Regions from separate parts of the Homo sapiens genome. Here all the other regions are linked to region 4. The links come from fine-mapping of genetic effects on gene expression. A gene starts in region 4. Each other region holds a variant in brackets. All regions are shown on one strand. Distances are from middle to middle.

Region 1 (8,104 bases), 45 kb before region 4:
CTGAATCATGGGGGCGGGTTTTCCTGTGCTGTTCTCATGATAATGAATAAGTCTCACAAAATCTGATGGTTTTATAAAGGGCAGTTCCCCTGCACACACTCTCTTGCCTGCCGCCACGTAAGCCATGCCTTTGCTCCTCCTTCACCTTCCGCCTTGATTGTGAGGCCTCTCCAGCCATGTGGAACTGTGAGTCTATTAAACCTCTTTTTCTTTATAAATAACCCAGTGTCGGGCATTTCATCATAGCAGTATGAAAATGGACTAATAAAGTCACAAATTGTATGATTTCCATTACACAAATTGCCCAAAATTGAAAAAGCCATAAAGATACTAGGTTAGTGGTTACCAGCATCAGGGAGGAGAAGGAAGTAATGGTAATGGGTATGTGGTTTCTTTCTGAGGTGATAAAAATATTTGGAATTAGGTAATGATGATCATTGTATAACCTTATGAATAAACTAAAAACCACTAAATTGCACACTTAAAAAGGGTAAATTTTGCAGAATGTGAATTGTATCTCAACACAGTTGTAACAAATATTAATTTTAAATGTATTGTTATAGTTTTATTTTTAATCTGTAAATATCTGGGTTTTATTGATCACGTATGAGAGTTATAAGCATTGGGTGCTTATACATTTAAGTAACATAGTTAAAATAATTTATAAGTAGTTTGGTTTGGGTCAGTTATCCTATAATTCACAACACAGTTTTGTCAGCTGATTTCTCATCTAGAAGCCCACAACACCCTGTAGCAGTTACTAAACTGTTCTGTTACCTCTGATCAACATTAGAGAGCAAATTAGCTTAAGGTTGAAAATTGGTTTTCAATAGTGAAATTCGTGGTTGCTTAGTCAGAATCATGAAAATACACATGGACCCTCACTTGGGAGACTGGTGTGACATCAAAATACTTGAATTGGGCATAATATTCTAAAGATACCATCCTGTCATTAACAGGGCATAACAATTTAGAGAGGCCCATAACCTATACTTTTCTGGATAATGCCTGGGACCTGTCAAGACATTGCGATTCCAGTTACCTGATGCCAACTGAAGGGGTAACAGACAACTATCAGCATAGTCAGCAACTACAGGAAGTCAGACAACTATCTGTAAAGGTCCAGATAATAGATATTTTAGGCTTTTGGAGCCATATTGCCTCTGTATAGGTACCTATGCAACTCTACCACTGGGCATGAAAGCAACCTTAGACCACAAATAAGCAATGAGCATGGCTGTGTCCCAGTAAAACTTCATTTACAAAAACAGGTGGTGGGCCATAGTTTCCTAGCATCCACTCTAGAACACAGCGTCTGCAGCATGCAAGGCGTGGGTGGCTGCATCATCTGTAAGGTCACAGAAGAGACTTCAAGTCCACAGATCATGTCTTTGCTTACTGATACACATTTGTGCAAGAAATATCTGGGCCTGGCTTGCATGATAATCTTAATCTGGTAGTGAGGTTATGAGGTTGTGAGGTTGTAGGGGAGTAGCTAACCCTGACCCACCTCAAGCTTTTCAGCAATTACTGTTATCTACTGAAAGAGCCTAACAGTTGTATATTACCAAATTAACAAATCACAGAGGAACCTCATTGTTTCTTTAATGGCCCTATCATTTTGATGTACACTATGAAGACAAATAAGTGAACTTCATGTCAAAAAGCAAGGAATAAAAATTAAACAAGGCAACTTAAGGGCAAAAAATACAAAGCACATTATAAAGCCAGAGCGAGGCCAACAGGGTACCAGGAGGTTCTGAAGACCTGGACACCAGCTCCAGTCCAGAAGCCAGGGGGCTGAAACAGTAGCTTGCAAAGGACTGTAATCATTCATGGTGCTGGAAGGAAGCAAAAGAGTTAATCATGCAAAACCAGCTTTCTGTAGCTTTAAAATCAGTTCTTTGATTTTCCCAATTTGATTTGAATTCATTTAACACTAAAGCCAGCTGGAATTTCCCAAGCTCAGGCAGCCTTAGAGCTAGGCAGACCCCAGATAAAAAGTTACACTTGCAGGTTTCAACACTCTTACTGGGAGGGGATTATCTGACCGAGGCCAACTTTGTTTATCCTTGTCGTTTAGCAGTCTGATGTAATAAAAAGGAGGAAAGCACATATTTTGTGTGCTATCCACAGCCAGTTGTGTTTCTTTTCCCATCAATCCATCCCTTGAGAAATATTCCCTAGACAGTAGTACAACTCTGTCATTTGAAGCATCTGCCTGTAGAAGGCTCAGGGCAGAGTTTCTCAAACTGGTGATTGTTAGACAACCTTGGGATGATCTGGGGAAAAGTGCATTTGAGCCCTGCAATCTGCACTTGTAACAACTGTCCTTGCCTGATGCTGACGTGGGTACTCCTAAGACCACAATTTGGGAAACACCTCTCAGTGGTGGCCTAACTCATCTTACCTACATCCTCTCACTAATACCACTGACCCTGGAATCTGGTGGCTCATCCATGTGCAGAAGGAGGAGCCAGCTCATAACTACAATTTTGCCACCAACAGCATATAAATAAATAAGCCATACAGAGAGTTAAGAATTGCCTATAAAAGTACCAAAAATTTAATACGTCTCCCACCAAATTTCTAAAAATTGACTACTTTTTAAATTAGGTGGGCAAACATGGCATTCATTCAACTCTATTGCGCATCTGCTGCGTATCAAACATAGCGCAAGGCACTGGGTACTGTATCGGTGAGATCAAAACAAACATGACCCCTAATCTTACCACTGGCCAGGTTTAATTAAAAACTCACCACAGGCACTCTGTAAATCAGATACATCTGGAGAACAGACATAGCTGTTAGACTAGAATGGAGGGCACAGAAAGCTCCAGCTAGAATATAACTTTTTTTTTTTTTTGAGACAGAGTCTTGCTCTGTTGCTCAGATTGGAGTGCAATGGCATGATTTTGGCTCACTGCAACCTCCACCTCCCAAATTCAAGCAATTCTCCTGCCTCGGCCTTCCGAGTAGCTGGGATTACAAGCATGTGCCACCACACCAGACTAATTTTTGTATTTTTAGTAGAGACGGGGTTTCACCATGTTGACCAGGCTCGTCTCAAACTACTGACCTCAAGTGATCCACCCACCTCAGACTCCCAAAGTGCTGGGATTACAGGCATGAGCCACCATGCCCGGCCCAGCTGGGATATAACTTAAACTCTCGACCGTGACACCTAGAAATAACCCGGTTAAGAGAAATGCACAACAGCTATCCATCCTGCCCTGGTTCAAGCAAAAAGGAGGACAAACCAGGCAGTCAGTCAATGTGTTTTAGAGTTCAGAATTAAAATCACACAATAACTCCAGGCCCAAGGCATTAAGGCAGAAAAGGCCTATAAACCCTGGAGAACTGAAGACAAGGTTTTAGACCATACTGAAAACTCAAGACTGTCCAACTGATGTCACAAGGCACCAGTGCTTGGGCCTGATTTCTTATCTGTGTGTTCCCATCACCCCATCCCTGCCCAAAGCCATTCGAGGATGCTTATGTTTCTGGGCTGCTGTACATATTTGTGCATGTGTGTTTAAGAGAAAGATAAAGAAACAGTCAAGGCAGGAAGGCACTGAACCAATGTCTATGGGTCAATGCAAATGGCCTGACAAGAAAAACTGCCATAGGCTAATGGTTTTTCAGAACATTTTGCAAGGTATGTAACTGGAAATGCCTCTAGCCTTTAGCCACCCACATCTCTCTTCTCATTCTGTCCTTACTCCCTGCTTTTCCTGCTGGGGAGATCCTCTCTTGACCCTAAAATCCTACTAAGAAGGTTGACCTACTTCCACCTGGCCTGCTACCAATTATAGAAGTAAATGAGAATCTGAAGGAAAAGATTACGTCTGATTTCAGTCTCTAAGGTTAACAGTGAAAGACAACAGAGTAACCTCCCAGTTAGCAAAGGCCTTCAACAGACCCTGAGTCAACAAGGGAAGGGCACCATCAGGAAAGCAAGCTAGTAGCCTCCCAGAAATAAGAGCCCCACCTGCCCTTGACTGGGCCTGGTTTTTTCCTTTACAACCAGGGTGATAAAGACTGAACTCAATACAATTTCAAGACAAGTCCTGTTAAGTAATCAACTCTGGTTTTGAATGAGCAAGCCCACCATTTCGGCATCTGGCTCCAACACATCAAATCAAGGGGAAGATTTTCCCAAAGGCTGAGAGTTAAGCTACTTACTGACAGCTGGAAGCTTAATTACTGCTTTTCTTAGAGCATTAACTCCCACTAGCCAATGACTACACATCCTATTAGCCATGTAAATTGACATGTGTTGAAAAATCTCAAAGAAATCAGCATAAGTTTAAAGGAAATCAGGCAGTGGGATTAAAGGAAAGAAGCCACTGAGCCACCCTCCCCTCTCCATTCTTTGTTCTTTTCATTGGGATTTCAAAGAAATACGTCTTTGTCAAGGATGCTTGGCTACCAGGAAACAACCAAATTCCTAGAGCCTAGAGCCACTTTGAGTGTTTGTCCTAGGCCTCTCCACTCCTCTGACTTCCTAGCACCTGCCAAGCCCTTTCGGAATGTTCGTCAATGTTGTCAATGTTGAGATCCCTTCAGTCAATCTGTCCCAAGCACATCCTTCCAATTCCTGTGTATGCAAACTCACCTGTTTAATCACAGAATGCCAAACTTCACAAAGGAAACTCAAAAGTAGTTTATTCTTTAGTACATTCAACTTACCACCACCTTTGTAGCAAACATGTACTTGTCCCGAAGCTGAAAATCTCTCACTTCCTCAAGGATCACTTCCTGGTTTTCCCGGGACTGGAAGAAATCTGTACTTCGGAAGACAGTGGAGTAGCCAGAGGGTT[C/T]ATGTCGTTCAATGTAGATGGTATTTGGTTTGTCATAGGGATCAATTCCCCTGGCAGAAAAAAAAAAAAAGGTTGTTATCATTTGCACATTTAATTACTAGAGGCATGGAAGTTTTGCAATGGGATAATCAACTAGAGTTTAGGCCTACCATGGTGTGACCCACAGATCATACTCTCTGTGCCTCAAACATATCCCTTTGGTTACTCCTTGACTCAGGATAGAGGGGACAAATTGCCATTTGCAAGGTGTTTTATGTTGTTTTCAAAGCATCCTGGGTTTAGCTCAAGGCAACCCTGCCCTGCTTAGGAAGAGCAAAAAGTAGTAGTACAAGATAAAATGTTTCAAAATTAATAAGCAAGGGACTGCTTGAAGCTATAAGCAAGTTTCTGGTCTAAAGTTATGAATCTCAGAGGAATGAAGGAGAGTTTTCCCAAGGTGCTACATCCTCTGAAGAACATTACTGGAGAAACCACACCATGAACCTCTGAGCCTGATCCTTCCAAGTGACGCTGCCCTGTCTCTGCCCTGTCCCCTACCAATGTCATGGATCTAGGCAATCTGGAGCTGCCTGTGCATTTCGTCTCCCATGAGGCTCTTCCACAAACTCTTTCTCAAACATACTGATCTCCTTGATGTCCTTCAGAAAGGGAGGGCACCTTTCTCCCACTGTGCTTTTGCAAACACCACACTCTCGTGAGGAGATGCCCTCTGCACGCACTCTGATCCCTCCATCCAATTCCTACTCTCCTCTGTCATCAAGTTCAAGTCTTCATCTTCCAGGAAGCCTTCCTCAGTGCTGTCCTCTCTTCTCCCAACACTAGCAATAACATCCCTCTGCAGCATCCAATTCCAAGCCTTTTACATGAGTTTGAACTCCAAACAAAGGTATAAAACCCCTTTAGTTGGGTGATTTTTTAGAATCAGTCTTATTCCTTTATGCAGTAATGCCTCTTAGACACTGTATTTTATTGTTCACCATTATGTATTTGTCTGAGCTTCCTAGACACAGTATAGATGCCTCGGAAGGCCATGTCTTAGATTTCATTTTACCCTATAGTATTCCTAGCTGAAGAGATACTTTCTGCATTGGATCTGTGGGGCAATTCAAGAAGCTAATCCAAAATGAAAACATAGAATGACCAGGCCAAACTACCTTGGAGAAGAACTTCTGAGCCAGTGATCCCCCAAGAATCCCCACACAGCAGCTCAGAGGACAACTTATCTGCTCCAGGTCTCCTAACATTCTCAAGAACACCAAGGCCATGGGAACCATTCAGCAAATGGAAAAAATAAATGGTAAAGTCGGGAAGATAGTCTTGTAGTGAGAATACAGAGTGATGACTCAAGGAAAAGCAGAAGGCCTCAGTTAGGTAACTGCCCTTATACAATCCCATATGCATGATGGCTCTCAGAATAATGAAGGTAATCGTGTCAAATTCCTTCAGAGATATACTGTCAAGAGCATATTCCCCCCACCCCTCCCAAAAAGGAAAATAAGAAACAGAAAAACAAGAACCTCTTTTGCCAGATGTAGTGGGTCACACCTGTAATCCCAACACTTTGGGAGGCTGAGGCCAGGGTAGGGAGGGGGACCATTTGAACCCAAGAGTTCAAGACCAGCCTGGGCAACATAGTGAGACTCCACCTCTACAAAAAATAAATTTAAAAAAATTAGCCAGGTATGCTGGCGTACACCTGTAGCCCCAGCTACTCAGGAGGCTGAGGTGGGTGGATTGAAGCCTGGAAGTTTGAGGCTGGGTGAGCCATGATTGTGCCACTGCACTCCAGCCTGGGCAACAGAGCAATACCCTGTCTTGAAAAAACAAAGAAAAAAGAGCTTCTTTTTACAATGGGAGCAAGACTTGAGTTTTGCCCTACAATCTGGATTCTTAGGGCAACGGAGAAACCAGCAGCTTTGGTCCTAGTGTGGGAGAACACTATTCTTCATTATCAGATCCTCTGTGTGCATGTGTGGGCGGGTGGTGGCATGTTCTCTTCTTTTCCACAATTAGAAGTACTGATTAAAGTACTTCCTCTAGCCAGAGGATATGCAAATTAAAATGAGGCTGCTTGGTATTTTTAAAACGGCAGAGAGGAAGGAACCTTTATTGAGCTATTTTGAGACCCAGCTCACCTCTATTATTCCTTCCTAGCCAAAAGCAGCAGCCAACACCTAGAGATAGAAAGAACTGTGACTTTCATCCCAATTTTCTTCCGTAATCCATATTTGGACCTCCCATTTCTGCAAGCTGCTCCACCTACAAGTTCTCATACTTTGCAATCACTTAGACTTCCAATGTCTTACGCTCACTGACACCTACTTTCTATTGTCTTTGTCCTCATTGAGAAATTCCAATCCTTGCTCTATCTCTGAGCAGTCACCAGCCTCACCTGGCCTCACCTGAAATCCCTCAATGATGCTCCACAGGGTATCTTTGAGTCCCCTCAGCCCCCTCCAGGTCTTCCACTGTTCTGTCTTGCCAATCTCAAGCTCCGGACCATGTAAATTTTTAGCTTTCCCACTCCTGCTGCTCCCAACTCGCCAAGCATTGTTGAACAAATGTATATCATTATTCTGAGAGACTAGATTACGCTTTCACTTATTATGGGGAAACCTAGGGGGAGAAATCCCACAAATAGCCTAAAATCCCCTAACCGACATGTCATTAGCTTCAATGAGATAAACCAGTCCTTTCTCCCAGGATATCTGTATATCTACACAGAGGCAGAAGGTACAATATGATTTTAGAACTTAAAATTTCTAAATTGTATGTTCCCTTATCTAGTAATTCTGCTGGTTTGCCCTCTTAATTTATAGTTTCTTAAGCAGATAAAAGAACAATTTTTCCCCTTAAAATTCAAATAAAGCAGAAGAAAGTTCTAATGGTTCTCCTTGAGCAGAGGGTGTCCTTGGATGAGACTGTGGTTATAATTTCACTAAGATCCCACAACTTTTGCTCAAGGAAAATAACAAAAGGGTCAGAAACAGCTACCCTCTGTGGAAACATAAACAGAATCTATGGGTGTCTGATGATGGTCAGCTGTAAGGCTCCTCAACATACCAGCTCCATCTTTACCTCTATTACTAAGGAAGCAATACCAACTAAAAGACATTTCACTTTACATGGAGAACTAAAAGAAACAAAGGCAGTATCTACATCTTCTGGGACCATTACACTTAATGAGGACTAAAATTACAAGTAAAAGTCTAAAAACAAATGAAAAACTAGGAGATAGAAATATAAATACACACACATACGATCTATCTCATATCACAGCC
Region 2 (8,104 bases), 160 kb before region 4:
TCCTGCTGAGCGCCAGAAACCAGGCCTGTGTTTCTTGCCCCATTAGAGGATCCCCTTCCATCCCACCCCACCCTAACCAGGCCAGGAATAAACAAAGAGGCCTGGAAGCCCAACCCACTCACCAAGTCCTGGTCAGGAGAGTCATACGGTGATTCCCACTTGATGACCACGGAGGTTTTGCCCGTATGAACCACATGCAGGTGACGGGGTGGAAGCCTGCTGTCCGGGATCATCTTCACTACAACGTAGTCAGAGGATGGCCCCTGGTAGGGTACCACTACACGGACCTGAAGCCCAAGCACACACGTAGGAAAAAAAATACATCATGGCCTTATGCAATCTTTATTAAAGTATTTTTTCAACAAAATAATGACAACAATTAAAATTCAGTTAGTACAAAAAACCATAAAATATAAAATAATTTCCCACCTACCCCAAATCATTTTCCAAGAGGTACCACTGGTAAGAGTTTTTGTGCTTCCTTCCAGAAATCCCCTATGCATATATAAGGAAGGATATGTATGTACGTGTATCCTTACACATATATGCACGTGTATATGAAGCCTATCTTCCTCAAATATTTTTTATACAACTGAGAAAATGGCACACATATTATGCTCTTGGCTTCTTTTATATAATAATATAGCGTAGAGATTTTTCCATATCAGTACATTTAGAGTTGTCATACTTCTTATGAACGGCTGTCCTGCATTCCATTGCATGAATAAACCATGATATGTTTAACCAGTCCTCTCTTCATAGACATTTAAGTTGCTTCACATCTTTTGCTATCATAAGAATAATAACGTACCATGTATCTTTCTCCATATATCTTGGCACACACATAAAAGTATGTAGGCTAAATTCCTAGAAGTGGAACCTGATAAAAATTTTTGATTTATCTATACTTGTGATCATCTGCCAAGTTATCAGTCCTCCATAACGGAGCTGCAGTTGGTGAAAGTGGCCGTTCATTCTGTATTTCAAGCAAGAACCTGATGATGCTTATGAAGAAGAGGAAGTTGCCTCTCGTCACACACATCAATCCTGGAGTCCAGGTATGCAAGCTCCCCAGGTCCTGGGTTGAGACCAGAGCCCAGGACTTAAGACATCCCTTAAAAAACTGAAACGGTATGGGAAACTTACCAGAAACAAATACTGCTCATCCTTACTGACAATGACCGTCTTGTTGTGGAGTGAAGTAGTCAAGCTCTTCGGGTTGCGATAGAGGTCAAGAAAGGACGTGGCATAGAAAATACCATAAACCTGGTAAAAGCAGAGAATGGAAGAGGACATCAGCTCATGGGCCGATGATCTCATTTCCTTGAAATCCCCAATTTAAGACCCTGGAACTGCTTCAAAAGAGCTCACAGAGAAGTCTTCATTCAACATTTATTACATTTACAGCATTTACAGAGAAGGCACTTGGGCCAGGCACTGTATGTAGAGCTACAAAAATAAATATGATGTGGTCTCTGTCCTCAAAGCGCTCCTTCTGGAGGAGAGGCGGGCAGAGAAGAAAAACATACATAATTATAAATAACAAGTGGCAAACATAGAGTGTTAGATGCTACACCAGAAACCCACATGATGAGCCAGGGAACGGGGGGTTATTAAAGAGGGGGTGTCATTCTACCATTGGCAGCACAGACGTGGGCTCCAAGGGGATGTGCTGAGTGGGAAGGAAAGCCATGGGAGCTTGCACAGTGGATGCGAACACCCCAGGAAGTATGTGGAGGGAGGGAAGGAGAGCAGACACGGCTGGCTGTCCAACAGGTACCCATCCTCCCTTTCTTCCTCAGAACTCTGGTTCTGATTGAGAATTGCTGCCTGGAAAAAGTCTAAACTGCGAACCTCCCTAAGCTAGAAGAGGCTAGACAAAGAGCTTCCAGCCATTGAGATGCAGAAGTGTCGCAGGAAAAGCTTTAGGAGGGCTCATTACAACAGAGGGAGGAGCCCTTCTTCCTGCCCTCTGGTCGCCTGGAATACAGATCATGACTGCAGGCCCAGGAGGCCTCTTGTACCATGAGGTGAGCTTGAAGACACATGCCACAGGCTGGAGATGACAGGGCTCAGGTGCCCAATCAAATCGTGCTGCCACGACAGAAGCCCTGCACTGCTCAACTCTAAACTTGTTTTAATTACAAGAGGAAATAAACTGTTCGAAGCCACTGTTACTGTCACTTCCTCTGCTCTATGCATCCCTGCTTAGTCCTAACTGGTAAACGTTGGAAACTGAGGGAGTTTCAAGCAGGGAAGTGGGAATGGGATGAAGTTTACAGCAGAAAGTGGAAGCCGAGGGAGTTTATAACTGGAGGGTGGGAGCTGAGGAAGCTTTCTTTGTAAGGCACAATCAAAGAGCATTTTCTCCAAGAGTTATGTGCACATGTAAGACATGGGCTTGACGAGGACTGTAGGAGCTGCAGGATCCATGGGATGAGCAGGAACTGAGCGGGGATCCACAAAGGGATTTCCAAGTCCCAGGCAACAGGGTGACTTTCTCCAGCACTGCTCAGCAGCTGTGAGGACTAAGCTCTGATTTTTTAAATCTTGCCCAAATCCCTATCTAAGGGGTCTGGGGAGTCATGTCCTACAAACCATAAATTCTCATCAGATGGGTTTTATTTAATCCTATATATCGTGACTTACTTTCCAAGTTGACTCTGGCATAACATTATGAGACAAGGAAGAAAATCAAAATATTTTACCCTAAAACATGTTTCTTTGTCATATCTTGAAATGGCCCTGAAAAGCTGTCCTTTGTGGGGGAACCTTCGCATCTGTAAAGAATCTCTATTAACATAGCTAGATCTTTTTCTTCCAGGCCCTCCCAATCCTAAAGACATTAGCTAAAAGTCTTGCACCTTTTAAAGATCTGGATAGGAAACATCTGTCATCTATTTCCCCTAAAGGCAGCCACTAAAAGACGTCAAAAGAACCTTGGTCTCCACAATCTTTTATCTTAACCTGAACATCTCCTTTCCGTCAATCTCAGGTCTTTAGACAAACTCAACCAATTGACAACCAGAAAATGTTTAAATTTCCCTATAGCCTGGAAACCCCTGCTTCCCCATGCCCACTTTGAGTTGTCCTGCCTTTCTGGACCAAACCAGTGTATTTCCTAAATGTATTTGATGGATGTCTCATGCCTCCCTAAAATGTATAAAACCAAGCTGCATCCCGGCCACCTTGGGCACATGTTCTCAGGACCTCCTGAGGGCTGTGTCACGGGCCATGGTCACTCCTATTTGGCTCAGAATAAATCTTTTCATATATTTTACAGAGTTTGACTCTTTTTGTTGACAGATGAGAAAGGACAGACAGATGGGAGAACACAGACAGAGAAACAGGAAGGGAAGCCCCGAAGGGGGTGATCGCCTGGGAGGATGTAGGAAAGAGAAGCGCTGAGGGACTCAAAGGGGTCCCAAAGCAAATGCAGGTGGAGCTGCAAAGCATGAGATGGGAGTAGGCCAAGTCGGGGCTTAGAGTACAGAGGGAGGATGACATCACCGAGGACAAGGCTGGTGACCGCCAGGGATGGGGTGTCTCTGGAGAGGAAAGGGGTCCACAGAGCCACGGGAGCCAAGGGATGAGAGGTTCCCCACATGCACAGTGACAATGGCACTTCTCACAGTAGACAGGAAAATCATGAGAGCTGCCAGGGTCCTCAATGAACTAAAGAGGGGCAGAAGCAGAGAGCTTCCTACAGGTGATCTCATTTGCGCTCTCACCTCTGAAAGCCACCTTTAGTGTGACCAGTGCATGAGCTGAGATGAGGTGCAGGAAGCCTCCTCCAACTTCATGCACAATTGGAGACCCTAAATCAAGTCAGGCTTCAGTGTTCTGTGCAATTGCCCTACTCTGGAGAGATAGTTGGGGGTGATGAGGCGGTCATGTGCTGCCAGGTATATAAATGGAAAGAAAGGGTTCTTTATGAGTAGACTCAACTTCCAGGTAAAAGAGAGC[T/C]CCGGGGATAGGTCAGGGCTTCTCATCACTGTCCCTGCCTCAGCGTCAGGTGCTGGGACACACAAAAGAGCAGAGGCTGTTAAATTAGCCAGACCTGAGCTGAAACTCAGTCTACTGCTTGTGAGAGCTTTAACTCTGGCAAGTTACTTCGCCTCACTGAGCCTTAGTTTCCTTGCTGGCAAAATGGGAATATTTACCCACAGAACCAATGAAAGGAATAAGGGGGAACAGGGGTTTATCGGATTTTATATTGTTCCTGGCACTTACTGGCTGCTCAGTAAATCTTACTTCTTCCTTCTTCTTCACTGATTTTACAGACAGCTACTTGCAAACTTTGGTTATTTCCCTATGACTCAGCCCTGTGACAAATGCACGCTGAAGATATCCTCAGAAGACCAGACCTAGGCTAGTTCCTCCGCTCATCACTAAGGATTTACTAATTCCTTATTATAAATTTACTTCTGTATGCTTTTCCATTGAGAAAATCCAGAAAACAATCCTTCCCTTCAAGGAACTTACAAACTAGTTAGGAAGGTAAGAGTAACAGACAAAAATTATCAAATAGGGTAAAGCTGTATTCAATGAAATATCATGCTATATGGAACCAACTATAAATATATTAGGAGTTCATAGGGAGAGAGATCAACTATAGAAGGGAGGATTTTCTTGCATAGCAAGAGGAGGGAAGGACACCAAGGAGGAGAAAGGGCATAAGCCAAGTACAGAGGCAAGAGGGGGACGAATGTGCCAAGAGCCTTGGGACGGTTGATCTAAAAGCAAAGGGGACACACTGGGGAGGAGTGGAAAGTAAAACAGTAGACTCAAAAAGGAGCACAGATCTGATCATAGTGAATCATAATGCACGTATGAAAACAAAGGAAAAAGAAAGGCCTATATCCAAGAGCAGCAGGGGCACCGGAACATTTGCAAAAGAGAGAAAAGCCCTGGAGTTGTGTGGTGGCGTAGCATTAGGGGACAGTCCACACTCACTTTGTGATGGTCATTCTGGCTGACTCACCACATTCCGGGGGCCGGTCCAGGTACATTCCACTGCAGTCTGGTTGATGGCTTTGGCCTTGAGGCTAGGTGCAGGTGGGCGAACCCCTCTGGTCATAACATGCTCAAATGCCAGAGGGCTATCCCCCAAGTCAGTCTTGGCCCAGGCAGAAATCTCATAGGATGTATGAGCTGTCAGATTGCCAACTGTGAAAACAGGAAAAGGAGATTCCAGGAGGAAGTTGGGGGTGTTAGTCAAGAACGTGTCTTGGTACATGCACTTTTTTAAAAAAAAATAGTAATCTCTTGACTTAAATGAGTCCCATGTGCTGTAGGACTGTCATTAGATGACAAATTCATTCAACGTTTATGTACTGATGATGACGGTACGTAACACACTGCACAAGCACTGGGTAATTTCTTTAAAGCTGCCCATCCGCGGATAGGAGTTGGTACAACGCTCCTGGAAGCCATTTGGCCTTGTATAACAAGAACCTTGGAAATCATACCCTTCAATCCAGTTATCCCATGAAGTCAGAGAAAGACTCAAAAGTGTGTTTAACAAGGATCCCCATCACAGTGTTACAGCAGGAAAAAACTGAATGTAATTTGATTGTCTAGTAACAGGATAATAATTAAATAATGTGCATTCCATCAACTACTGTGCAGGCACTAAAGGTTGTTTCAAAAATATTTGATGACACTGGAAAATTCTCACAATTTTATGTGAAGTGAAAAGGGCAGGATACAATACTACCTATGGCATTATTCTGATTTTAGAAAAAAGATATAAAGAGATCAATCCATGGAAAAATATATTAGAAGATATCTGAAATGTAAAAGTGAAATTATAGGCAATTTTAATTTTCATTACACTCTTTTTGTTCTCTCAATTTTCTGAAACAAATATGTATCCCCTTTCTGATCAGAGGAAATGCTATTAAAACTAAGAAAAAGAAAAGTGAGAAGGGGGAGGTTACGCTAACAAGATAGCCTTTGGAATCAGAAGGACTGGGGTTTAAGGCCTGACTCTATACTTTGTGGTTGTATAACCTTGGGTAAAGTATTTAAACTCTCTATTTCCTTGTTTGTAAGATGGAGAAAAAAATAACAGCACTTACAGCAGCTGCTGGCTGGCAGGGAGAAAAAAAGAAAATGCTTAGGAAGTGCTTGGCATAATGCCTAGCATCGCACTAGCCCTAATAGATTTCAAACAACAGCTAGTTAAGGCTTCTGCTCCTGACTCTGCCAGTTTCTACTGGGGCAACACTAAGGCAATGAGATCATAGGCTGTGGAGTTAGAAAGATGTGGGTTCCAATCCTGGCTCTGCCACCGTCTGAGCGTATGACTTATTCTTTCAACTTCAGTTTTGCCTCTGTAAAGCGGGCATATCTCACGGAATTATACTTGGGGTTATGTAAATAATATGCGTAGAATGCCTGTGTAAATGCCTGTACATGGTAGGTGCTCAATGTGCAAAAGTCAAAATAACAGCCTCCTCGGGCACCTTGTAGACTTTCAGTTAAAAAAAAAAAGTAACAATAGAACATTTGTAGTCTCTACTTTATAAGGCTATGACAAGGACTCAATAAAAACATGACTGAAAGTGCTTCACAGCCTAGAAGGAGGAGACAGGAAGAAGCTCCCAAGTCATTCTCAACAGTTACAGGCAGCTTTCGCCACTTAGAAATAAATTAAAATCCATCCTTTAGCACGTGCTTAGATAGAGGAATTTTAGCTGAGACTTGCTGCTGGTACATACGTAACAGGGACTGGACCACTCCTCCCTTAGTTTGTTGTCCATTTCTCCAGTCAACATGTATTTACTGAACACCAGTTATGCATAAGGCCTTCTGCTGTCTCTCATTAGCAACGGGAGAGTGAACCAGACTAGAAAGGACAGACAGGTAACTGTCTATATCTAAGAACTCTTTCTTTTGGAAATCAAAACTCATCTGCAGAGAATTAGTCTTGCCTCTGTCCAATTTTCCTCCTTATGGCCCCCAACTTCCACTAAGGGTCATGAGGTTGGAGGAGGGCTCGAGGGGCCACTGAGTGAATCCCTCTGCCTAGAATCAGCAGCACACTTATAGGATCCTCAATGCACAAGAACCTGTCAACACAGAACAGCTTCCAGAGAATACCTCCCCTTCCCTGGCACCCCCAGTCAAGCTCTACAGCGGGAAAGCATTGGTCCAGCCTTACCCCTTCCTGCACACACACTGACCAGCACCAAAGTGTTACCTTTGTGTGACAATATGCTTCCTCGGAAGTTCAAAGTTCTCCTCTCTTGCTTGTGGGTGTCAAATGCCCAGAAAAGGTTCACCACATAGCCATTCACCTGCCGAGAACCAAGAAGCATGTTAGATGAACAGCTAGTCATGGGGCACACTAAATACAAAAGGCAGGATTAAAAATACACCTCTTTCCTGTTCTTTCCTTGGGTATCTCATTCTTACAGTGAACAGGTTGTTTTTTAAAAATTTTAAACAGGTTCTACTTGTGCTACCATTAGCTAATATTTAGTTGTACTCCACCTACTTCTAAAAACAAACGAGACCATATTTAATTTATAGATTCAATGAAACAAAAAAGTGAATGAAGAATAAAAGGACGAGAACCAATTAATAAAGGTAGAAAGAGGAAACACTGGAAAGATAATTAGGCCATGGAAATTAAGGATAAATCCTTGCAGTCAAGGCCAAGAAGACAATCCATACAAAACAGGCTGGTTAGATCTCATTGTCTAACTACAGAAAATACATCCACCCATCAGGAAAGACTACCTTTTCCAAGTCCTGAGCTCATAAAAAGATTTGATCTGAAGATCGTTAAATATGGGACAACGAACAAAAATATTTTCAAGATCAAAGACTACAAGACAAGAAGCATATAAGCCCACTTCTTTTTTCTTTCTTTTCTTTTTTTCTTTTTTTTGAGACAGAGTCTCACTCTGTTGCCCAGGCTGGACTGCAGTGGCATGATCTTGACTCACTGTAGCCTCTGCGTCCCAGGTTCAAGCGATTCTCCTGCCCCAGCCTCCAAGTAGCTGGGATTACAGGCATGCACCACCACACCTGGCTAATTTTTGTATTTTTAGTAGAGACGGGGTTTCACCATGTTGGCCAGGCTGGTCTCGAA
Region 3 (8,104 bases), 120 kb before region 4:
AAAGGTCATTTAACAGCTTCCAGTCAGTGTGCTGCAAATGGGTTACAGGTGGGCTGAGATTCTGAGACCCTCAGACCCTTAGAGCTGCTTGCCTCTTGACAACAGCATCCTTGTCCATTCATCCCAGTGCTCTCCACATATATTATTTTCTATGCTTGCTATGATGGGAAGAAGGTTAGGAAGCAGTGATAGAGGAGGCCAGGAAGTAGAACTTTCAAGAAACAGAGGACTCCTACAGACACAGCCTGTGGTTTGAGAAAAGGAGTGCCGAGAGGTCTGCATGAGCTGATCACCGTGAGATGCTCAGTCAGAGAGAGTAAAATCAGTGCTGAGCTCCCAAAACGGAGGAAACATAACTCGGGACTTTCTGTGGGCAGAGCTCCAGGGACACGGGTGGATGCGCTGTCTCTAGAAGGGTGGGGGCCTGGTAAGAACCAACCAGCAGAGCTTGACCAAGAAGGGGAAGGAGGCTGCCCTGGCAATAGCCTTCAAAGCTCCTGGGGAGATCATGAAGACAGAATGCTATAGGCTGAGCTTATAAACAATAGCAATTTATTTCTCTCGGTTCTGGAGGCTAGGAAAATTCAAATGTTTATACTTCATATGTTGAAACTTCAAATTTGTATGTTGAAACTTAATCACCAATGTGATATTATTAAGAGATGGGACCCCTGTGAGGTAATTAAGTCATGGGGGCAGAGCCCTCATGAATAGGATTAGTGTCCTTAAGAAAGAGGTGGGAGGGAGCTGTTCACTCCTTCTGCCACGCTTGCGTACAGATAGAAGCATTTCCCTGCAGTCCTTCCAGAAGCAGAGGTGCCATCTGACGCTGCAGTGAAGGTACCATCTATGAGGAACAGGCCCTCACTAGACAATAAGTCTGCTGGCACCTCAGTCTTGGACCTCCCAGTCTCCAGTACTGTGAGAAACAAAATACTATTGTTTATAAATTACCTACACTAAGTATTTTGTTATCACAGCCCAAATAGACTGTGGCATAGAACTTTCACATGGAGTTTACAGAGCGTCAGAAAACAGGAGCAGCCAAGCGTGGGGCCCAAGGCAGCCGTCTCAGTCATTCTCGCCAAGAGGCTTGTTGATGGCAAAGCTAGTAAATCAGATATTTTTGAGGAAGAGTGTGGAAACTTACGAAGAGGACCTGCATCAGAGGAAGGGGCTAACCGGGACCCTGGGATGAATTCAGGACAAACTAGTAAGAATGAGCCATGAACAGAGGATCAGGGGGCTGAAACTGCTTCACAGTCAAACATGTACCCAGTACGTGAGCTCAATGATACCAGAAAGAGGGAACCACGTGAAGTTTCCTTCTTACTAGGGCAAAACTAGCTACACATTTCAACCTTCTAAGAGTGCTGGGAAGGAAATGGCAGGGATGAAGGGGAAATAGTTGCACATTCCAAGGACATGTTTTCAGGCACTTGAAGAAGGAAAACTGGGAATTTTTTAAAAACCTTCCAAGAGCCAGGCTAGGGGTATTTTCTGTGTGGAAATGGCCTAGGCTCTGCTCTGCTGGTTAACTTGCATTGAGATGATTTACAAGCTGCCCTTGCTCCCCTTATTTCAGCTGCTGTGAGTCAAACCACCTGCTCATAATCAAGCAGGCTGTGTCCATGTGCGTAAGCACAGCGTGGCTGGACCTGCCCCCCGTGGACAGGGAGAGAGGGCACAGTAGGGCCCCGCCAACTCATCACCACGTCTGGGTCAGCGTCTGACCTCCACTCTCACTTCCCTCTCATGCCTCAATCTGGCACACCATGCTGATTGCATAATGTCTCCTTCGGAGGTCAGCAACTATGAGTCTGGGACCAGGGACTGTTAACTAAGATGGGTCTCATGAAACTGACAAGGAGGTACTGTGCAACAGAAATAGTGGAGGATTAGAAAATGGGAGACATGGATTCCAGTTCCCCATTCTGACACAAACTAATTGTGTCACCTTGAATAAGCCCCCTGACCTCTACAGACCTCAGTCACTTTAGAAAGTAGAAATTAAAAGGATTGGACCAGAGAATCTCTATCATTCCTTGGAATTGTAACCCACTGTTTTTCTAAATATAAAAATGTCCATTCAGAAAACAGATGCTCACTCAATGCCTATACCATCTGCTAACTTCTAATAATAACAGAGTTGAATGAATTAAATTGGTTAAAAAAAAAAGAACAGTTCACAGAGGTGCAGATTTGTGTCTTCAGCAGGCTAATCTCACACCCACTGAGACATGTGGGCCAAGCCTGTAGAGCTGTTAATAACCCCCTGAATTCATTCAGAAATTTACTTCCTTACCATCACCTTTCATCCTTATAGCATCTCTCCAAGGCAAAGCAGGGTCCATTTCCCCATTTTTCAGACTAGAAAACAAAGGCTAATCTAAGAGTAAGTGACAGGAGCTGAGTCCAGGCTCCATCTTTTCTGACCATGAATCATGAGGATTCAGTTCTGCTGGAGACACTTGATCCAGAGTTAATGGGAATCTAGGGTCCCATCCAGAGTTAATGGGAATCTAGGGTCCCAGTTCGCAAGTGTCTCCAGCGAACTGAATCCTCGTGAAAAGCAGCAAACAAACTCTTTAAGAATGGACAGAGAAATGACTCAACCCCACCATGTGGATGGAGAAAGCCATTCAGCTAGAATATCATAAATCCTGAGACGGCTATCAGAAAACCAGTACATACCAGTACAGCCCTGTGAGGGAGCACAATGACCCCCCTCTCCAGAGCAGGGTTTCAGGATGTGATGTCCCCTTACCACAATGACTTTCATCACTGTTGTCTCCACAGTCATCCTCAAGGTCACATTTATAGGACAGTGGGATACAAGTCCCAGACTCCTGGCAACGAAACTGGGTGTCCAGGTCACAGATGGTGGTAGCTAAAATGGGATAGAAAGACAACATATTCCTTAGGTACAATTGATTTCCCACAAATGTAAACATCCTACTGGAAAACCAATTAAAAAATAGAAGAAAGCAGGTATTAATTGTAGCAACAGAAATTAAACCTAGACTTACAGAAGACATAAATTACATGAGAGCTTGAAATTTACAACCAAGAGAGATAAGGGCATATCTTTCTGTGGACAGCTTCCAGATCGGAACAGGACGGGGAAAAGTGAGAAACTGTCATCTGTTGGCGAGAGAGAGTGACAGGCTAGGTGACCTCCTAAGATCCCTTCAGACGCGAAAAGTGTCTTCCTAAATAAGTGACAGAAATACCTTTATCTATGAAACTACGATTAGAGAAGCTCAATTTCACACAAGAAGTTAGCACTTCATTGTACAGATGGTAAAGGCAGCATGGAGGTAGAATTCTACAGTAGGAACATAGGCTCTGTCTGCAGTCAGTCAAGACTGGGTACCAAATCGTGGCTCTACCTCTTCCTGGGGAAATTAATTTTAATCTCCCTACGGCTGTTTTCTCAACAGTAAAACTGGGTAAGATAATGTGTCCTAGTGCTTGAGATCACAGTCAGAGAGACTAGATTTGTTTTTCTGTTTTTTGAGATGGAGTCTCGCTCTGTTGCCCAGGCTGGAGTGCAGTGGCGCAATCTCGGCTCACTGCAACCTCCGCCTCCCAGGTTCAAG[C/T]GATTTCTCCAGCCTCAGCCTCCTGAGTAGCTGGGATTACAGGCACCCACCACCAGCCCCAGTTAATTTTTGTATTTTTAGTACAGATGGGGTTTTGCCATGTTGGCCAGGATGGTCTTGAACTCCTGGCCTCAAGTGATCTGCCTGCCTCAGCCTCCCAAAGTGCTAGGATTACAGGCATGAGCCACCACGCCCAGCCAGAAAGACTAGATTTGAATTGAGTCTGCAACCTACAACTTACTTAACCTGCCTTTACTTGGTAGCATTATTATGAAGATAAACCAGGGAACAAGTTTGGAACCAGAGCCTATTAAATAGGATGTAAATATAATGGGCTCTAAACAAATGTCACTTCTCTTCCTCATCATTCCTCATGTCCTTCTGGCATTAGAATGGATACAGAATTAGATTTTTCTTCCTCTCCTAAGTAGATATTTCCTGTGCTTAAGCACAATCCCTGGCACCCCGTGAAACACCCTCCAGGAAAGGCGAGGGGAAGGCAGGCTGCTCTCAGGAGAGTGAAAGGCTGACCCAGGAGGTAAAATGTGGCAGAACAGAATGCTGGCACGGGGGAGGGGTTGTCGTGCACGAAATGCCAAATAGCAATGCTGCCGTTAGACATCCTGGCAGCTCTTATTTGAGGCTCCATTTCTTCTCTGTAATTGAGCTCGTGGTGGGAGGCAGGGGATGAATGCAAAATGACAAGACTGCAGGGATTCGCGTCAAAACCCTGAGTGCCTGACAGTCACCCAGCTAGAGGAATCTGTGTAAGAGGGAGGGAAACCCACTGACAACACCCTCCTGCATCCCGGTGTCCCCCCTCCTCCACTGCTCCCTGGCAGCTGGCAGGGTGCCTCACTTAACTCCCCACATGGCAGTACTCAGTCACTGCGGTCCAGCTCCTGCAGCCCTGCTTAGAAACAGGGAACCTCTCTCCTCCACACGCAACCTCCTTGATGAGGGAGACACACATGCAGGCACAGATAAGCCCCTCTCTCTTGACTCCCAGTCTCTGAGTTTTAAATCCTTCTGGTTCCTCCTCTCCACGCCTCAGCTCCATCTGACATGTGTAGACCTGAGCCAGGTGAAACAGGGAGACGACGGAGCAGAAAGTAGGTCTCGGGGTCTCTGGAAAGTGAATCCCAGCTGACATTCACGCCAAGCTGGGAGGAGGGCAGGGCCAGCTCCATCCTTCATGCACAACTGTGCAGTCTGCAACAGAGCTCAGGGGCTGGGTGGGAGGAAGCCATTGGAGGCAGCAGGTGCCTCCCAAAAGATGCAGGTCTTCATTCCTCTCAAAACTCGGAGCCAATACAAGATTCAGCTTGTCCATTTAGTAGAAACCAAGCCCAAGGGCACAAGGAGGAATGCTCTGCCACCTGTGTCCCTCACTCTTGGATATGAGGTCATCTGGTTTGTATCTCCCTGCTTCCACTGTGCCTAATTATGTCTGGGCAATTTCCTTGTAACTTGTTAATTCTAAGAAGCATCTTCTATCCCACCCAGATATGTAATAAACTCCTTTCCATTATCTGCTTCAATGCTGTTAATAAGCATTAATGTTTTTAAAGAGCTTTGGCTATTCCCCCACAAATATCACACCTTCCTGCAACTCTGATAAAGGAGGCTTTATAGGCCTTATTTTTTGCAGAAAAGACACAGAGAGGCTAGTGCTTTCCCAAATCTGCCATTCAGCAAATAAGCTCTACTCCCTCGGTGTGAAAGGCACCCTCTGAATCCAAGGGAAAACGATTAAGGAAAGGCTTTGTAAATAACCCTCTATCAGCCAAAAGGGGGAGTCTATAGGATTGCAGGGCCCAGATGTGTTTAATGAGCTGGATATTTCACAAGTTGCTTTCTGGGTGAAGTGGCAGGGGAGCCGGGCACAGGCCCCACGGATGACTGGCTAAATGAGTATCTAGAGCTTCCCATTAATCTGTTCTTACAGTACAAATGGGTAAATGAGCCCCTGGGTTGCCAAAGGTAAAATATATAAAAGAGAAGCCTCTGACTTGGTTCCTGCTTCTGGTCTCTCTCCATCAAACGCATTCTGCCCACTACTTATCCTTCCAAAGATGAACTTTCATCACATGACATCAGTGGTTCCCAACTGCTTCTCCGATAAAGTCCACAAAGCCCTTGCTGTCCTGGGCGCTGCCCACTCATCTAACTTCACCTTGGCCCCTGTGCCCATGCCCATTCTCCATAACTCAAACCAGTTTCCTGGCCATGCCAGCTTCCCCACATGCTGCTCCCTTGCCTGTGAATTGATTCCCTCCACCTCTGCTTGGTTCACCCCAGACACTCTCCAGAGCTCTTTGCTAGGGCCTGCCCAAGTTTGCTTTGGGTGCCCATCCTACATGCATATGACACTTCCGCATCGCAGTGCCCGTCACTCTACTGTAACTGCCTATTTTTCTGACTCCTACTTCAGACTGTGAACTCCGTTTCTGCCTTGATCGGCAATATATATGCAGGCCCAGCACAGAGCCTGGAACACAGGGTGTATAGCAACTGCTTGTTGAGTGAGTGCATGACTGACAAAAGGGCAAATCATCTCCTTATAAGATAATGTCGAAGCTATTAAAAATTAAGTGAAGAAAAGATAGTGAAAATTCATGGTTAATAAACTATCTGTTATTTGTGGTTGTTTGGTTTTAACTTCTGCTAACCACAGTCTTATACTTTAGAAGTCAGATCTTAAAAATTATACAGCCTAAAGATGACACTTACATGGCATGTACACCAATGGCCCCACACTGTAGGCCAAGCTATGCATTACTAACCAATGAAAACAATCTCTCTTGAGCCTGGTAGGTAGCCAACATCAACCAACTGGAGTAAATACTCATTTCCCATCCCTAAAAAGGCTGAATATTGAATTTCCAAATCAAAGAATATCACCTGTTTACTCGCCCCAAGTCACCAGCTTTATTACAGAGCCACAGCCAAGATTAGAGCCCAGATTGCCAAATCAATTCAGTTTCAGCCATGTGACGTTTATTTATAAATCTCTTGTAACGAGTGGTACTTCTGGGGTGGTTAAAAAAATATTATGTATATAATATTAATCCTATATATCTAATATCTACCTGTGTATGGAAATATGTTTTCTCTGTCATCTAAGCCCCATCAACTTAGATGGGCATCACCAATCATGGGTGGCCCTCGCCCTAGACCTTAGGCCCTCAGCCTGGGAAGAGCCAACCAGGCTTCTGAGTAATGGTAAGTGCTTAACGTCCAATCCAGAAGACTCACGGCAGTTTCTCTCATCGCTCATGTCTCCACAGTCGTTGTCAAAGTCACACCACCAAATGCTGTTGATACAGTTCCCGTTGCTGCAGCGATACTGGTTGCGAAGACAGGTGTTCTCTACCCATCAGAGTGCGGCAGGGGAGGAAATGAAACCAATATTATTCTTACTGCTGGACCACAGGTCTTTCTCTTTTGAGTTTCCCTCCCTTTAGTAACTATCGGGGGAAATTCAGCCAGATATCGGGTGAAATTCACCCCCGATATTTCACATAGGTTCTTTTCTATTTTCCCTAAGTGTCGGCCGGTCTGAGAAATAAAGGGACAGCGTAAAAAAAGAGAGAAATTTTAAAGCTGGGTGTCTGGGGAGACATCACATGTCGGCAGGTTCCGTGATGCCCCCTGAGCCGTAAAACCACCAAGTTTTTATTAGTGATTTCAAAAGGGGAGGGAGTGTACGAATAAGGTGTGGGTCACAGAGATCATGTGCTTCACAAGGTAATAGAATATCACAAGGCAAATGGAGGCAGGGCAAGATCACAGGACCACAGGACGGGGCGAAATTAAAATTGCTAATGAAGTTTTGGGCACGCATTGTCACTGATAACATCTTATCAGGAGACAGAGTTTGAGAGCAGACAACCAGTCTGACCAAAATTTATTAGGCAGGAATTTCCTCATCCTAATAAGCCTAGGAGCACTACAGGAGACTGGGGTTTATTTCATCCCTACAGCTTCGACCATAAAAGATGGCCGCCCCTCGAAGCGGCCATTTTAGAAGCCTACCCTCAGGGACGCATTCTCTTTCTCAGGGATGTTCCTTGCTGGGAAAAAGAATTCAGCGATATTTCTCCCATTTCCTTTTGAAAGAAGAGAAATGTGGCTCTGTTCCGCCCGGCTCACCGGCAGTCAGAGTTTAAGGTTATCTGTCTTGTTCCCTGAACATTGCTGTTATCCTGTTCTTTTTTCAAGGTGCCCAGATTTCATATTGTTCAAACACACATGCTCTACAATTTGTGCAGTTAATGCAATCATCACAGGGTCCTGAGGCGACATACATCCTCCTCAGCTTACGAAGATGACGGGATTAAGAGATTAAAGTAAAGACAGGCATAGGAAATCACAAGGGTATTGATTGGGGAAGTGATAAGTGTCCGTGAAATCTTCACAATTTATGTTCAGAGACTGCAGTAAAGACAGGCATAAGAAATTATAAAAGTATTAATTTGGGGAACTAATAAATGTCCATA
Region 4 (8,104 bases):
TGAACTAAAAGCGGCCAGAGACTGGGCACAGAGCTCCCTAAGAAAAGACGCCAAGTGGAACCAGGAAGAGCTTTTCAAGGTCACGTCCCTTATTGAGCCAACCCAAGGCCCCGAGCAACTCTTCAGCTACATAAAAGCCAACCTGAAGCAGCACATTCTTTGCCTTCTCATCTTATTCTGGAAGCACACAGGTCAAACATCCTAACTTCAGAATCAACCAGCCAATTCTTTCCCAAGCAAGTGTATCATGGAAGAATCTACTCAAAAGAGATCTAAAGCTGAACGGTATTCCACCCCCAAAGGAGGCCTTTTGTCCCAGGGCCTTGTGCTGTAATAGACACTTTATTTTCAGTCTCAAATCAGGACACTGAATACTCCCTGGCTTCTAAAATGTAGGAATTATGAAGAGAGAGCTTGTTGGAAGGAAAATAAACCTGTAAATCCTGTTAGGCTTTGTGCTTTATTCCAAAGGATTTTTCCCCAAAACAATACCATTAGCATAAACCAGAATGATAGCCCTAAAAGGGAGGATTCTGTAAAATAGAATCCAAGCTCTTCATTGAAAATAACTCCCATATAGCACAGGCAAATCAGGGCTCCACTATCTGTAGGCCATGCCGCTTGCATCCTCACTACCGAATGAGCCATCTCATTTTCACTATCCATGTGTGGGTTCACTGTATTCCTCCTTACAAATACATTTTATATAATGTGAATGTGCTTCCTACCCTCTGGGCCTCTCTTCTTCCAGGTGTGTGGCTGGTCCACAAATACTCATTAAGGGCCTCCCAAGTGCCAGGGAAACACAAGAGAACTTGATCCATGCCCTCAAGGAGCAAACAGGAAGATGAGACAGTTGAGCAATTCTAACACAAGGCAGTAAGTGCTGCCTCCAAGCTCAGAAGAAACTCTTCCCACCATAGCCTGAGAATACCAAGAGGTATTCCTTGGATGTTAAAGAATGGAATAAGAGCTTCCCAGGCAAGGACAAGAGTTGGGGAAGATCATTTCAGGCAGAGGAAAAAGCAGGTATGATGGCGCAGACAGACAGAGCTTATGAGAAATCAGGAGGAAATTCAGTGTGGCATGAATTAGGGAATCCCTCTTCTTGGACCTGGCCTTTAAGAAGGGGCTCAACTTCTAAACTTTGCCTTTTTTTTTTTTTTTTTTAGATGGAGTCTCACTCTGTCCCCCAGGCTGGAGTGCAATGGCGCGATCTCGGCTCACTGCAACCTCCGCCTCCGGGGTTCAAGCGATTCTCCTGCCTCAGCCTCTTGAGTAGCCAGGACTACAGGCATCTGCCACCACGCCCAGTGAATTTTTGTAGTTTTAGTAGAGACGGGGTTTCCCCATGTGGACCAGGCTGGTTTCGAACTCCTGACCTCAAGTGATCCACCCGCCTCGGCCTCCCACAGTGCTGGGATTACAGGCGTGAGCCTTGAACATGGGCAGAAAAGTCCTGATATCTGCCAGCAAATTATTTTCACCCCTACAATCACATTTCAGTATCATAAATGTGCCTTTAAGTAATCATGGCAGAAGCCGGTCTCCCCACCTTAGAGAAACTGAGGAGGAAAATGGTCAAAATAACCAAGCCTAGTTTACCCAAGACATTAGCGAAGCAGAGGAAAAAGGACCGACATTGACTCCAGCACAGGGCTCTTTCTCAGATGCAAGTATTCCCCTAGAAAGCCTTCCCTTCTCTTCTCCCTGAAGGTGGTGGCCTTAACATCGCCTCTAGGCCTGCTTCCTTCAGGCAGCTTCTGCTTCCAGCCCTAACCTGTGCTGCCAGTGTCCTCTTAACCTCACTCAAAGGTCAGAGGGCAAGAAGCTGGACAGTGTCTGAGCCCACCACCCCTTATCTCTCCATCTCCCATGCGCTGCATGTCACACAGCCCGTTATCACACCATTGTAGAGTTGTGGCTGGTTTCTTGTGACCATGTTTCCTGGTTCCCATCCTGGTACATTGACATGCCTGTATCTGCATCTGCTTGCTCTCCTCCTTAAATTGTAAATTTCCTAAAAGCAGGAATGAAATTTTATTCCCCAGCTCACTGCACCTCCATAGAACCACACTCAAGTCAAGCAGTACTGTTGGAAAACATCACCATTCCTTAGGTTTAAACGTTGAAGGGGAAAGTCGTGATTACAAAGTGGAACTTGGCTTAAGGCTAAAAGTAGGACCATATAATTTATTGTCACATCTTGACACTTTTGAGAGTGAAGGGGGTGCTATTCATAACCACCAGAGACAACTTAGAAACCAGGTCTGCCCCAGGGAAACACAGAGGCAATGGTCATCCTTGCTAGAAAGATCATTCCAAATAGATGTTAGTTACTCCAGAGTTCCAAGAGGGGCACCTCAAACCCCTTCAGTCACCAACCTGTGCTTGCATTCTGAAGGGTCTGCACCAGATAGAACTTGTGGCAGAAAGCCCAGTACAGGGAAGTTCTTCCTTTTATCTGACTCAAATCCTTACAGATTCAAATTAATTCCACTTCTTATTAACCTCAGAGCAAGAGGCAACAATGGCATAGGAAGGCAGCCACAGAGAAGAAAAATCTCACCCTTGTACCCTCACCCTCCGGTTAGGAATTCCTCATTATGAGTTTGACTGCTAGTTCTCCATCCTTCAGCTGAACCAAACTCAATCTGGCTGGCCCAGAAACTCAAAAGCCCAGGGTTTGGGAGTCACTCCCAGTGAGAACAGAGTTCATGTCCAACCTGCCCCACATCCCCTGGAGCTTTTCATAAACCAAACCCAAGAAAGAAATGGCACATGTACACATATTTTTGAAACCAGAAAACTTTTTCCTCAACCTAAACTATAGCTTCAGGGGACCTGAGCACTGGGAGGGATTGTCTCCCACCAGCCCCCAACTCCCAGTTCCCAGAATGCTGATTCAAGAGCACAGCAGAGCTGGGCTGACTGCGGAGGCCCAATGAAGAAGTGGGCCACTCCTCCTCCTTCTCCCACCCTCCATCAGCCCCATGCTGGTGTCGCTGTTAAGAGCAAGGACCTTGATGACTTCTTTTTGTTCATACACATATTTGTCATATGGGGTGGGGACAGGGGGACAAGGATCTGGGCCCAAGAGGAACTGAGCATGCAGGTTCCTGCAGCCTGTGGCCACCATTAGTTACATGCCCTGGGGCACACATTCTTGCCCAGGGACCAATAGTGGAGGGAAATCCAACGCTCCCACCCAGTCACCACCATCCTTTCCCCCTTTATACCAGATCTATTTTATTTTAGAAAGGAGGTATTTCAGCAGCATTGCATAAAGACAGGGTGACTGCAGTCAAGCAAAGGTCACTGAGACAATGCAGACAAAAACTAGAGAGCAGGCCACCTTCCCGGTATGACCTTGGACTAGTCACTTCACCATTCCACGCTTCAGTTTCTTCACCAACAAAATGACACAATAGGGTGATATGTTTACAAGGTTCGTCCTGGATCCAAGGGTTGAACATTTAACTCTGTATTTCCTGAAGAAATGGCTAAAGTGAAATTAGTGAGAAAAGGCAGAACTCAGGGTAATCTTTTATTAATAATTTCTACTTCAAAAGGAACAATTTGACTCTAGAAAACAAGTGTATTTACCCCCTCCTCTGGTCCTACTTTTTCTCCCCCACCGACCTTATACTTTTGCTGATGTCAATCTTAACTGCAGGACTGGGAGTCTCATGAGGCAATAACACGGTCAAATTAATTTTGCCAGTGCTGATCCTAACCTACAAACTCCATCTGCAATTCCTCGCAGTAAGTCTGACCATAAAAGTGAAATTCACGTTACTTATGATCTAATAAACCTATTGCCTGGGTAGAAATAAATCACTTATAGAATAATAATGCCCACCAAATTTCCTGCAGTCCTTTCAAATCTCCAAGTGCCATGAGGGGTATTCCTCTCCAAAATAAAGTTATCTTGACGGGGGTGGGAGAGTCAGCATCTTGAAGGGTGGGGAAGAAGGAATGGAGAGCATCTCACACGCTCGCCAAAAATTAAAAATTAAAAATTCAGCCTTTACACACGCACACACATACACACACCTCTTGTCTGACTGTACAGAGATAGTCGACAAGCTTTCAGGTTTGCCCACTTTTATTGTGCTAATAATGCTAAGTGTGGAAACCCCCACCTCGTGCTGTTCTGTGTAAGTGTACCGCAACTGCAGGGTGCTCGCCTCCACTGCCAACTGATGATACACTAAAGAAAGCCCGTTTTTTATCCAGATGTAAAATGAAGCTGCACCCCTCCTATACCTGCCGGAAACTACATCTCTCTGCACACACCCTGGGGTAATACGCACTGCACCCGGCGAGTTACCTGGAATACGTTTACTAAATCGACAGGAAGAAGGAAAGATCAATGCGATTCAAGTGCTGACGGTTGTACTCGTGAAGGAAAAAAACAAATGCAAGCCGGGAAGTCCCCAGTGGTGCCTGCACCTAGGAGGCGACTGCAACGGATGGATGCGGGGGTGAGGAAGTGCAGGGAGAGGAAAAAACTGGAGGGAGGCGGGTTGCAAAACTGCTCACCTGTCCGTACACCTTGATGGGCTCGGGCTGCAGGGCAGCGCTCCGTTTCCTCCGGAGCGGCTTCTCGTCCGCGCGGCTCGCCCCCCTGGCATCCCCGCGCGCCCACAGCCGCAGCTCGCGCGGGTCGCCCTGCACCACGAGGAAGCCCCGGTCCTGGGGCAAGGGCGCGCTGCCGCCGTGCAGCCTCTGCGTCCAGACTTCGCAGAGAGCTCCGGGCGGCAGCAGTGCGACCAGGGTGAATAGGAACGGGAGTCGCGACTCCCTCCTGCTGCTCCGTGTCGCCATGTTCGGGCGAACGCTACTGCAGGTGGCGCCGCCGCCAGGAGAGAATGTGCAGCGCGAGGCCAGGAGAGCCGCTGGGCCGGGACCGCGCGCGCCGCTCCCGGGGCTCCAGGCCGCCCGCGCCGCTCCGGGCCGCCCCGCTGCGCCCGCCGCCGCTGCCGCCAGGTCCCGCTCGGTTCGGCGCGGCGCCGTCACGTGTGAGGCTCGCAGCGCGTCCCTTTCGCGCACTTTCTGCGCTCGGCGGCCTCGGCGGCGACTCCGGCCCCTCCCTGGCGCGGGGATGGGGAAGTTAAGGCAGCGAGCGCCGGTGGGGGTGCGTCCCTTCCCTGGCGGGCACACCTCCTTGTTCTCCCTGCAGGAATGAAGAGTTGCATGGGGCTCGCTCGTTTTCTCTGGAGTTAGTTGCGTCCTATACAGGGTCGTGTCGAGGTCGTCCTAAACCGTGGCCACTTTCCTGAGTGCACAGCCCGCAGTAGCGCCACAAGACCACCTCCCCCCGGCCCCGGCCTCATCCCCACCTCCAGGGAAGAGTCCAGAGCCACAGAATTAGCTCCTAGAACGCAACCAACAAGAGTCCAGATGAACCCGCTCTATTGGGAAACTCACAGTTTTTCATCTACTCTGGGCACCACAACGTATTTGCAGGGGCCACAGCAAAAACTACCCTTGATCAAGCTACGTGCCCCAGCCTGAAGCACAGCAAATAAACATCCTGCACAGAGGCAGTAAAAACAAGGGTACATCTGACAAAGAATGCACCACACCTGGACAATTATTACACAGCTATACAGGGTGTGCTTGCACGCACGCATGAATACCTGTGCGTGGCACAGGGCCCCAGCGGCGGCTTGCTTATGATCCCTCCAAGGTGACCAAGCACTGAGCCACCCTGCCTCAGCAGTAAAATAGACATATTTACCAGTCCCTTCAACCCACAGCCAGGAGCTAGGCAAACACCCACAGAGGAGGGAGGACACACTTTAACCCTACATTCAGCTTGACGAGCCAAACTCTCTGAACCACAGGAGATAAAACTTCTGCCATGGAACTGCTAAGGTACGCCCAAGGAAAATATTTTTTTTGCAGGTTAGTGGGAGCAGCCAAAGTCTATGTACTACTGCAACCTTTCCTATTTCATTTTATGTTTCACTGCCCTCTGAACTCAGATCCTGGTTTTTGATAAGAATAAAGACACAGCAAGCAGGGCTGAAAGGGAGACTACCTTTATAGTTGCATACAAGCTGCTGTTCAGGGGAAGGAAGGGATGGTCAGTTCAATTTTCTAAAAACATTCCTCATCTCCGACAAGCCACGGTAGCCCGATTCCTACCCCGGCCCACTCTAGTACTTTTCAGGTAGCTTAGCAAAGCCCCCTCCTCTACCTAGGACTACCACTGACAACCTGCCAGAGTCAGGCCAGCTTGCCTCATCTCCCTGAAGCCAGTATTCAACCACCCTACCCTACCCCATGCCAGACTTGCTGGGGACCTCTGCCTCAGGTTCTGCACTCTCCCACCTCCTCCCACACCCGATTTTCTCCCCAAGTCAGATGATGTCTTTCTGTCCATCTCAACATAATTACAGAACCATCCAGTTCTCCCCACCAAGCAAATCATGCATTCTCTATGTTAACCACCCTGCTTTGTTCATTATACATTGTATACAGGTATCAAAATACCACACTTTCCCCAGTGTGGTATTATTGGGGTGCCTTCATCCTGCACCCCAACTTTGATGTTATTTCAGAGGGATTGAGGAAGTGGTAGCTTGTTTACAACCCAGAGCTGGTTTTGAAGCTGAGAGGAACGCCTTGCTCATATTGTGCAATTCAGCTCTAACTCATATATATAACATATATATTTATTATATACTTATATATGTCAATTAAAAATAATAATTCAAACAATCATGCATCCTCCAAGAAAGCCACTGAACCACTGTCACCTCCCACCCCTCATCTAGATCAGCTCTGTCTGGTCAGCATCACCTTACCAGGAATGGACAACCCCATGGTCTCTCAGGACCAGCAGCAAAGATATCTCTACTCCCATTTAGCCCTCAAAGGAAAATGAAGGGAATATGGCTAAAGTGAGAACATCCTGTAGATGATTCAATTATTGGGGTTTTTCCAACATATATTTAATGAGAACCTTCTCTGCAAGAGCAAGTGTCAGAGTCCCAGCAGAAAACAGAGACAGGAGTCTCCTAAGTGTGGATTTGAAGATGGGCATCTGTTTGCCCACACAAACTGCTGGCTTAAGGTTCAGATGGCCCCTTGCACAGAAGGACTAGTAGGGCAGGGCCAGCTACTTGCTCATTTTGATGTTGATTTGCAACTTGAATGCTAGAGAATTGGTAAGAATATTCAAACATGGTTAATTAACTCCTTGCAAGCCCTCCTATCTAATCATTATCTACATTCCAAACCATTCTCAGGTAGATAATCAGCAACCCCCCAAGACTGTGCCTGCTGCACAACTACAGAACGCAGTGGAAGACACGCTGAATTCTGAGTCAGAAGGTTGACTTTCTAGCTGTGGGGACTTGGCCAAACCTCCTCAGAGCTTCAGTTTTCTCATCTGTAAAATAGAGATCTTAATCCCTACCAATCTCACAGGACTGCTGAGAGTATCAGATGAGGTAAGTATATAAAATAGCTGTGCAAATTTGTGTGAAGGCCTCCAGAGAGAAATAGTGCATGCAGGTGGCATTAGAAACATAGATTCTAGTCCTGGCTTTGCAACCAAATTATTATGTAATTTTTTGTCTTGATCATCTTGTCTCTTACGATTTCTTCATAAGTTAAATGAAAAGACACCTTTCAGCCCTGACCACTCCCAAACCTTCAGGACCCCCACTGGGTTGTGAGATAGGAGCAGCCACAGGCAAGGTCACCCAGGACAGGAGTTAGAGCTGAATCGTGCAATATGAGTGAGGTGTTCCTCTCAGCTTCAAAACCAGCTCTGGGTTGTAAACAAGCTACCACTTCCTCTATCCCTCTGAAGTAACATCAAAGTTGGGGTGCAGGATGGAAGACAGTACCATATCCCCCTCTGTCCCATCTTGCATGGCCTTGCTCGGATGCTGCCCAGCATCATGACGAAAATCAACATGCACGGAAATGTAATGATAGACTCACAGCTGTGTATAAAACAGTCTTAAGCCTGTTGTCAGACTTTAAACTGCCCTCCTCTGTCCTACTGCCCATCTTAGGCCACTGGAGATGGAGGTAGAGGACAAACACACAGAGGTCACAGTGTCCTACATTTTTATCCAGG

Which allele goes with the higher level. Positions count from the first base shown, and alleles are read on the strand shown. Sizes are in standard deviations (SD) of each study's normalised expression. Not every link is listed here.
For the expression in monocytes after Pam3CSK4 of the gene that starts at base 4,848 in region 4, allele C in region 1 goes with a lower level than allele T (large effect, 1.3 SD a copy in Quach 2016).
For the expression in monocytes after R848 of the gene that starts at base 4,848 in region 4, C is the low allele of the variant in region 3 and T is the other (large effect, 1.8 SD a copy in Quach 2016).

The links. PIP is the estimated chance that this variant, and not a neighbour inherited with it, causes the effect. A credible set is the group of variants that fine-mapping cannot tell apart.
Region 1: its variant is the best candidate, but not a certain one, in a credible set for the expression of SORL1 in monocytes after Pam3CSK4 (Quach 2016, PIP 0.66).
Region 2: its variant is the best candidate, but not a certain one, in a credible set for the expression of SORL1 in whole blood (TOPMed, PIP 0.57).
Region 3: its variant is the best candidate, but not a certain one, in a credible set for the expression of SORL1 in monocytes after R848 (Quach 2016, PIP 0.64).

The regions. Positions count from the first base shown.
Region 1 is chr11:121,493,638-121,501,741 of GRCh38, reverse strand. It overlaps SORL1 (sortilin related receptor 1), which reads right to left. Exons shown (of 48, transcript NM_003105.6): 6 at 4,693-4,873. Among named protein-coding and RNA genes, the nearest start is that of SORL1-AS1, 45 kb to the right of the region's middle. RefSeq lists an enhancer at 3,103-3,603. The variant C/T (reference allele first, on the strand shown) is at 4,824.
Region 2 is chr11:121,611,936-121,620,039 of GRCh38, reverse strand. SORL1 (sortilin related receptor 1) reads right to left here. Exons shown (of 48, transcript NM_003105.6): 40 at 7,208-7,304; 41 at 4,985-5,169; 42 at 1,147-1,266; 43 at 123-287. Among named protein-coding and RNA genes, the nearest start is that of SORL1-AS1, 160 kb to the right of the region's middle. RefSeq lists a silencer at 5,226-5,520. The variant T/C (reference allele first, on the strand shown) is at 3,967.
Region 3 is chr11:121,569,027-121,577,130 of GRCh38, reverse strand. It overlaps SORL1 (sortilin related receptor 1), which reads right to left. Exons shown (of 48, transcript NM_003105.6): 23 at 6,861-6,974; 24 at 2,768-2,890. Among named protein-coding and RNA genes, the nearest start is that of SORL1-AS1, 120 kb to the right of the region's middle. RefSeq lists a silencer at 257-336 and enhancers at 5,386-5,885, 5,886-6,387, 6,848-7,017, 7,128-7,177. The variant C/T (reference allele first, on the strand shown) is at 3,603.
Region 4 is chr11:121,449,058-121,457,161 of GRCh38, reverse strand. It overlaps SORL1 (sortilin related receptor 1), which reads right to left and starts at 4,848. Exons shown (of 48, transcript NM_003105.6): 1 at 4,546-4,848. The coding sequence starts at 4,830. SORL1-AS1 (SORL1 antisense RNA 1) reads left to right here and starts at 4,195. Exons shown (of 3, transcript NR_183636.1): 1 at 4,195-4,487; 2 at 7,263-7,466. RefSeq lists silencers at 2,838-2,887, 4,732-4,781, 4,912-4,961 and enhancers at 4,012-4,061, 4,082-4,151, 4,192-4,241, 4,252-4,441, 5,832-5,891.